Linked DNA regions of Homo sapiens. The protein of the gene in region 1 purifies or fractionates together with the protein of each later gene. This does not show direct contact. Each region holds a gene or a part of one and is shown in the gene's direction. Other genes may lie near its edges.

What was found. Proteins that work in one complex are often made in the same cells at the same time.
Region 2: the proteins of ING3 (region 1) and RSRC1 purify together in Homo sapiens (affinity purification with mass spectrometry; one large-scale study listed by BioGRID and IntAct). This does not show direct contact.

What each region holds. Positions count from the first base shown.
Region 1 is NC_000007.14:120,967,777-120,971,276, forward strand, and holds part of ING3 (inhibitor of growth protein 3), read left to right. Parts: intron 1-157; coding exon 158-315; intron 316-1,234; coding exon 1,235-1,428; intron 1,429-2,911; coding exon 2,912-3,104; intron 3,105-3,424; exon of another isoform or gene 3,425-3,500. UniProt on the Homo sapiens protein: Component of the NuA4 histone acetyltransferase (HAT) complex which is involved in transcriptional activation of select genes principally by acetylation of nucleosomal histones H4 and H2A.
Region 2 is NC_000003.12:158,543,160-158,546,230, forward strand, and holds the end of RSRC1 (serine/Arginine-related protein 53), read left to right. Parts: intron 1-175; coding exon 176-328; intron 329-1,023; coding exon 1,024-1,116; 3' UTR 1,117-2,571; downstream 2,572-3,071. UniProt on the Homo sapiens protein: Has a role in alternative splicing and transcription regulation. Involved in both constitutive and alternative pre-mRNA splicing. May have a role in the recognition of the 3' splice site during the second step of splicing.

The sequences.
Region 1 (3,500 bases):
AAAAAGGAAAACCAAATACATTATTCAGTTGACTTAATGTACAAGTGACATTAAAAATTTTAATGATTATATGTCTGTGCTGGGAAATAATGTAATTTAGACTCACTAACATTATGTTCTCTGCAACCATTTTTATTTCTTTTTTACATCTACACAGGTTGTCGAAATAATAATTCCACAGCCTCTTCTAACAATGCCTACAATGTGAATTCCTCCCAACCTCTGGGATCCTATAACATTGGCTCGTTATCTTCAGGAACTGGTGCAGGGGCAATTACCATGGCAGCTGCTCAAGCAGTTCAGGCTACAGCTCAGGTAAAAAGTAAAGGGTTTAGAGACAAAATGTTACATTTTGTCGGAATCATTGGAAACCTAATAGAAATAACGGGATGTGAACAAATAGTTTTCTAACGTTGTATATTTTCATTTTTAAGTCATGATTTCACGATATGTGATATTTTATTTAATGAAATAATACATAGGAATTGCCTGATTGATAATGAAAACTAAAAAATAGGTTTATCATGCGGATTACATGCAGACCCTTCTCACAATAACTGCTCATGTTGCCCATGTTCTTGACTGCAGTCCACAGCACATGCTAGCATAGTTCTTCGTTCTTTCTGCCAGTTCCAAGGCTTCCCCTGTAGCCTTGGACTTAGGTCATCTTGAGTTTGTTCACTTCTGTATAGTTTGCCTATATTCCAAATTAAGAAGCTGCCCATCCCATAGTTTATATTCTAACTGTGTAAAATCTTATTTTAAATCTTTAAATGAAAAAGGTTAGGCCAGGCATGGTGACTCACACCTGTAATCCCAGCTCTTTGATAGGCCGAGGCAGGTGGATCACTTGAGGTCAGGAGTTCAAAACCAGCCTGGTCAACATGGTGAAACTCCATTTCTACTAAAAATACAAAAAAATTAGCTGGGTGCCTGGTGGGTGCCTGTAATCCCAGCTACTCGGTAGGCTATGGCAGGAGAATTGCTTGAACCTGAGAGGTGGAGGTTGCAGCGAGCCAAAATCGTGCCACTAGACTCCAGCCCAAGCGACAGATTGAAACTCCACCTCAAAAAAAAAAAAAAAAAAAAGCTTAAATTCCAGTGATGAAAATAATAGTTTAAACAATATAAATTAACATTTGATAAACCAAAATAAAACTATAATTTGTAAAACTTGAAAAAGAAAATCTACATATTTACATATATTGATGCTATCAATGAATGTCTATTTAAGATGAAGGAGGGACGAAGAACATCAAGTTTAAAAGCCAGTTATGAAGCATTTAAGAATAATGACTTTCAGTTGGGAAAAGAATTTTCAATGGCCAGGGAAACAGTTGGCTATTCATCATCTTCGGCACTTATGACAACATTAACACAGAATGCCAGTTCATCAGCAGCCGACTCACGGAGTGGTCGAAAGAGCAAGTAAGTTTTATTGTTACAGTAGCCCTATACCTTTACTGAACACTTGGTCTACTTGACACTTCAGCCAGGCCTCTCTATGTTAAAGGCAGGATATAACGGATTAAAATTAACCTTGCAGAGGTAGGGAGACATGCGGTTTTCATTTTATAGTGCCATACTTTGAAGGTGTCAAGTCTTTAAAAAGTGTTAGAGTTGTTTTTAATTTTTCTAGAGTCATAAATTGAGTTTGTTAATACATGACTTCTTTTTATCTTCTTTTATTCATTAAGATAAATCATTTTATGGAACTGCTTTTCATTTATTACCCTTTATTTTGCCATGTGTTTCAAGGTAAATTAATGCAATGCAAATTATATCCTGGTGATTTTTTTTTTTTAAACAAGATTTTTCATTTTGATTAACAGCAAGCAAGGCGTCTTCATTCTTAGTCTTGGGTCCCAAAAACTGATGGTGTAAAAATATCCCTAGATTTTGTATATGAGACTTGGGATGACTGTATAAGCTTTAAATATGAAAACCTAATAGCATTTATCACTGTCTATCCCAGGTAACTGAATATGCTGGGTGTTTATACATAATGAAAGTTCAAATGCTAGGCCAAAATAATTAGTTACCTAGTAGTTATATTTTCTGTATTTTAAAATATGTTATATTTTTTGTGAATTAATCCCTTAAAGAACGATCAATATGAAATAACCACAACAGAAGTGTCAAACATCTTAAAAATTAATTCATCTTAATGGTACAAGTTTAATGTAATTTCTTATGATAAAGTTCTATACTTTTAGAATTTAAATAGCATAGGGCTTAGCAGTAAATTACTTGTGAATTTTTACAGTCTTGGTTCCCTGCCATACTCATGGTAGGTATTCACACATCAGTTGATGGTTATAACCACTTTCATCAAATGTTTTTGTGTGTGTGTGCTTTAGGTTTTGATGAAGAGTATTCAGTTTACTTAAAAATACGAATAATGAGTGGCTGGGCGGGGTGGCTCATGCCTATAATCCCAGCACTTTGGGAGGCCGAGGTGGGCAGATCACGAGGTCAGGAGATCGAGACCATCCTGGCTAACACGATGAAACCCCATCTCTACTAAAAATACAAAAAATTAGCCAGGCATGGTGGCGGGCGCCTGTAGTCCCAGCTACTCGGGAGGCTGAGGCAGGAGAATGGCGTGAACCTGGGAGGTGGAGCTTGCGGTGTGCAGAGATCGCGCCACTGCACTCCAGTCTGGGCAACAGAGCGAGACTCCATCTCAAAAAAAAAAAAAAAATACAAATAATGTCTGTAAAGTAGCCAGAACTTATGTTAATTCTTCAAAGTACTACCTACAATTTAAGTCATTGGTAAATCCGGATTACTTTAGCTTACACTTTAATTTATACATTTGATGTCATTTCATTTTATACTATTTATTTAGGAGTTATTCTCAGTTAACTTCTGGATGGTGAGCAAATAAAACTTATACTATTTTTTTCAGAAACAACAACAAGTCTTCAAGCCAGCAGTCATCATCTTCCTCCTCCTCTTCTTCCTTATCATCGTGTTCTTCATCATCAACTGTTGTACAAGAAATCTCTCAACAAACAACTGTAGTGCCAGAATCTGATTCAAATAGTCAGGTTGATTGGACTTACGACCCAAATGAACCTCGATACTGCATTTGTAATCAGGTAAAAGTCTGTTATATCTATAAAAGTATAATCTGAATAAACTAGAAGGAAGAGAACTATTTCATTTTTAAGCACTTTTTTAAACTCACTTAAAATACCTTTGCTTTATTTGTATACTTTTCTCCCCCTTCTTACAAAAGTGACATTTGCTGTAAATACTGAGTATAAAGAAAAATGTTACCCATAATCCTAGCCCTCAGATACAACCTGTAACTAAACATTTTTGGTATACCACTACCATATACCTCATGTGCACATTGGCTGCCTTAATAAAATACAACAGACTGGGTAGCTTAAACAACAGAAAATAATTTTCTCACAGGTATGAAGGCTGGGAAGTCCAAGATCAAGGTGTCCACTGACTCAGTTCTGGAGGAGGGCTCCCTTCCTAGATGG
Region 2 (3,071 bases), on another chromosome or scaffold:
AAATAAAATAACTGTATTTCTAAAACAAACAAATACAAAAAGTAGGGCCTTTTTGGAGATGGGTATCATCTCAAAGGAGACTAATTGAACAGTTGTTATTCAAAATCAGAAATATTTTTGAAGTAAAACTCTAATTGTGTATTGTGTTGAAATTAATATGTGTTGTTTCTTTCAGTCAGTGGAACCTAGTGAAGTGAAACAAGCAACTTCAACATCAGGACCAGCATCAGCAGTTGCTGATCCACCCAGTACTGAAAAAGAAATAGATCCTACCAGCATCCCTACTGCTATCAAGTACCAAGATGACAATTCCCTGGCCCATCCAAATGTAATATCCTTAAACTTTACGAATGTCAGTTGAAGTCTAATTTACTGAAATTATTTCAATCTGTTATCCTTTTGTGCTAACACCAAGGAGACCATTGGAGGAAACAGGTTCATATTCCCTTGCTAAAAATAGGCATCTGGCCCCCAGGCCTTTAGAACTGTTATCTATATTTGAATACAGTAGGGTCCAACTCATGTTGCCTAACCTGTAGAAGTATTCTGTCTATGGTTAAGAAAAATAGACAAAGAGAAGCATTTTTTCCTTTTTTTTTTTTTTAGCTGAATTGATCAGCACCATGAGAAGTGTTTGTTTAAAAATCTAGCACTAAAAGTTCCATTTCTGAGCTCTACTTTGTTCATTATCAGTGAGCACATCACTAACATCATACTTTGCTGTCTTCCATGAAATGTTGTAATTCTGCTGTTTTGGAAAAGTTATAGGAAATAAACTTCACAAATATAAGGTACAAAATTGTTAAGCAATGATGTTGATACTAGTAGTTCTTTTACTCCAAGAATTTCTGAGCATTACTAATTCCAAATAGATAGTCATCAATTAAGAGGTCATCAAGAGTTAAACAGTATCCAAATCTTGTGTTGAGAGATATATTCTACAAAGGTGAGTTCTGTCATTTTAGGTCAAATTCAAGTTATTGGGAGACAGTAACATTTTTTCTTTTTCTTTTCTTATTTCAGTTATTTATCGAGAAAGCTGATGCTGAGGAAAAATGGTTCAAGAGATTAATTGCTCTCCGACAAGAAAGACTAATGGGCAGTCCTGTGGCCTAAGTAATATACATATAGTTGGATTGGATTGTCAGCAGTAACATTGGAAATTTAGGTTTTTAAATCCCAATATTAACTTTTTACTCTTAAAAAGAATTTTGCTGATTATATATAAAGGTAGTCTCATTTCATTTGTCTCTCATGTAGGCTTGAATATTTGTTAATTTGAATTAAATCAAACATTGTAAAAATTAAAACAAAATTTAAGATTGCATGAAAATGTTATACTGTTAATAAAGCTAAACATAAATAAGTCTGTTAAAATGAATGGTAGACACTAGTGTTTCTTAGTGCAATTCAAAAAATGTCAAGATGTCATTTAAAGACACAATTTTGATTAATTATGCATACATGAGAATTGAATTACATGCTATAAATATGAGATTTCATCTTCCGTATGGTATTCAACCATTTTTAAATATTTTATTTCACCATATTGCAAATTTTTAGGCACAATAAAAAGCACCCTAAACAATGTAAGCAGAATGTGCATGTTAAAGAACATATTTATGGAAAAAAAATTTTTGAAACTTAAATAAATTGGTGATTTTGCTTAGAGATCAGCTTCTACTAGATGCTCCTTTACAACATGTTAGCAGATCTCAGCTCATTGTTTTAGAAATCACATGTTCATGCTAGACCTAACCAGTTGGCCAAATACCTATGATGGAGAAATCATTTCTGAGAAAACTGATAAGAGCTCTCACTTCAGTCTTACTTACCCCACTGCTATTCCCTGTGGAGAAAGCCGGCTAATTGTTTTGATAAGGCTATCTGCCATTGTAGAATACCTTTCTCTAGTAGCTGAATGACAATCAACTATACGTTCCATACTAAACATGCCAGAGATAGGACTTTTAGGCCTTGCTTTACAAAACTGGTTTTTAACAGCTGACATGAATATTTCCCGTTTCTATTTTCTTTTTTTTTTTTTTTTTTTTTTTTTTGAGACGGAGTCTCGCTCTATCCCCCATGCTGGAGTGCAGTGGCGCGATCTCAGCTCACTGCAAGCTCCGCCTCCCAGGTTCACGCCATTTTCTTGCCTCAGCCTCCCGAGTAGCTGGGACTACAGGCACCCGCTAACATGCCCAGCTAATTTTTTGTGTTTTTAGTAGAGATGGGGTTTCACCATTTTAGCCAGGATGGTCTATTTTCTTCTGTTGTCCAGTCACTAATTTAGTCTCTGCGAAGACTGTAGCTCAGAACAAAAGATAAGCAAAAAAAGTCTTCAGGGTAGGACTGCCAACATATAGGACATTTTAATGCCATCTTCTTTATATTTCTGGGACATTAAAATTCAAATCTCTGTTGAAAATGAAAAATGTAAAACTTAGTTGCAAACAGTATAGAAAATAAGTGATGATGAAATATTTGTTTTCATACAAACATGCTTTCCCATTCTAAATAGATGCTAGTTTTCTTTTTTCCTTGGCTGTAAATAAAAGTGCCCCAAATGAACCGAGATTTGTGTGGTTTTTAACATAGATGTATACAATTTTAGTGACTTAAAAAGGGGTTACAGTTTATGAAATATTTTTATTTCATACTTTGTATAACTTATAAACTATAGAAGTACTATCACCCTATTGGAAAGTATATGTTAGTGGTCTGGGCAAGAATATGGGTTATCATTTGGGCCACTAATGATTCTCCAGAGGACCTGGGCTAGGCAGTTTTCTCAATATCCCTGATCTTCCTTATCTATAAAACAGTGAAAATCTGGTCTACTTCAATTATATTTAATACCAGTGTTCCTCTGTGGCAAGTACCCCAAATACAGAAGCTTGAACTGTGACAGAATTGTTTTTTGGGGTTTTTTTTGGGGGGGAGGGCGGTGGTTTGAGACAGAGTCTTACTCTGTCATCCAGGCTGGAGTGCATTGGTGCGATCTCGGCTCACTGCAAGCTCCGCCTCCCAGGTTCATGCCATTCTCCTGCCTCAGCCTCCTGAGTAGCTGG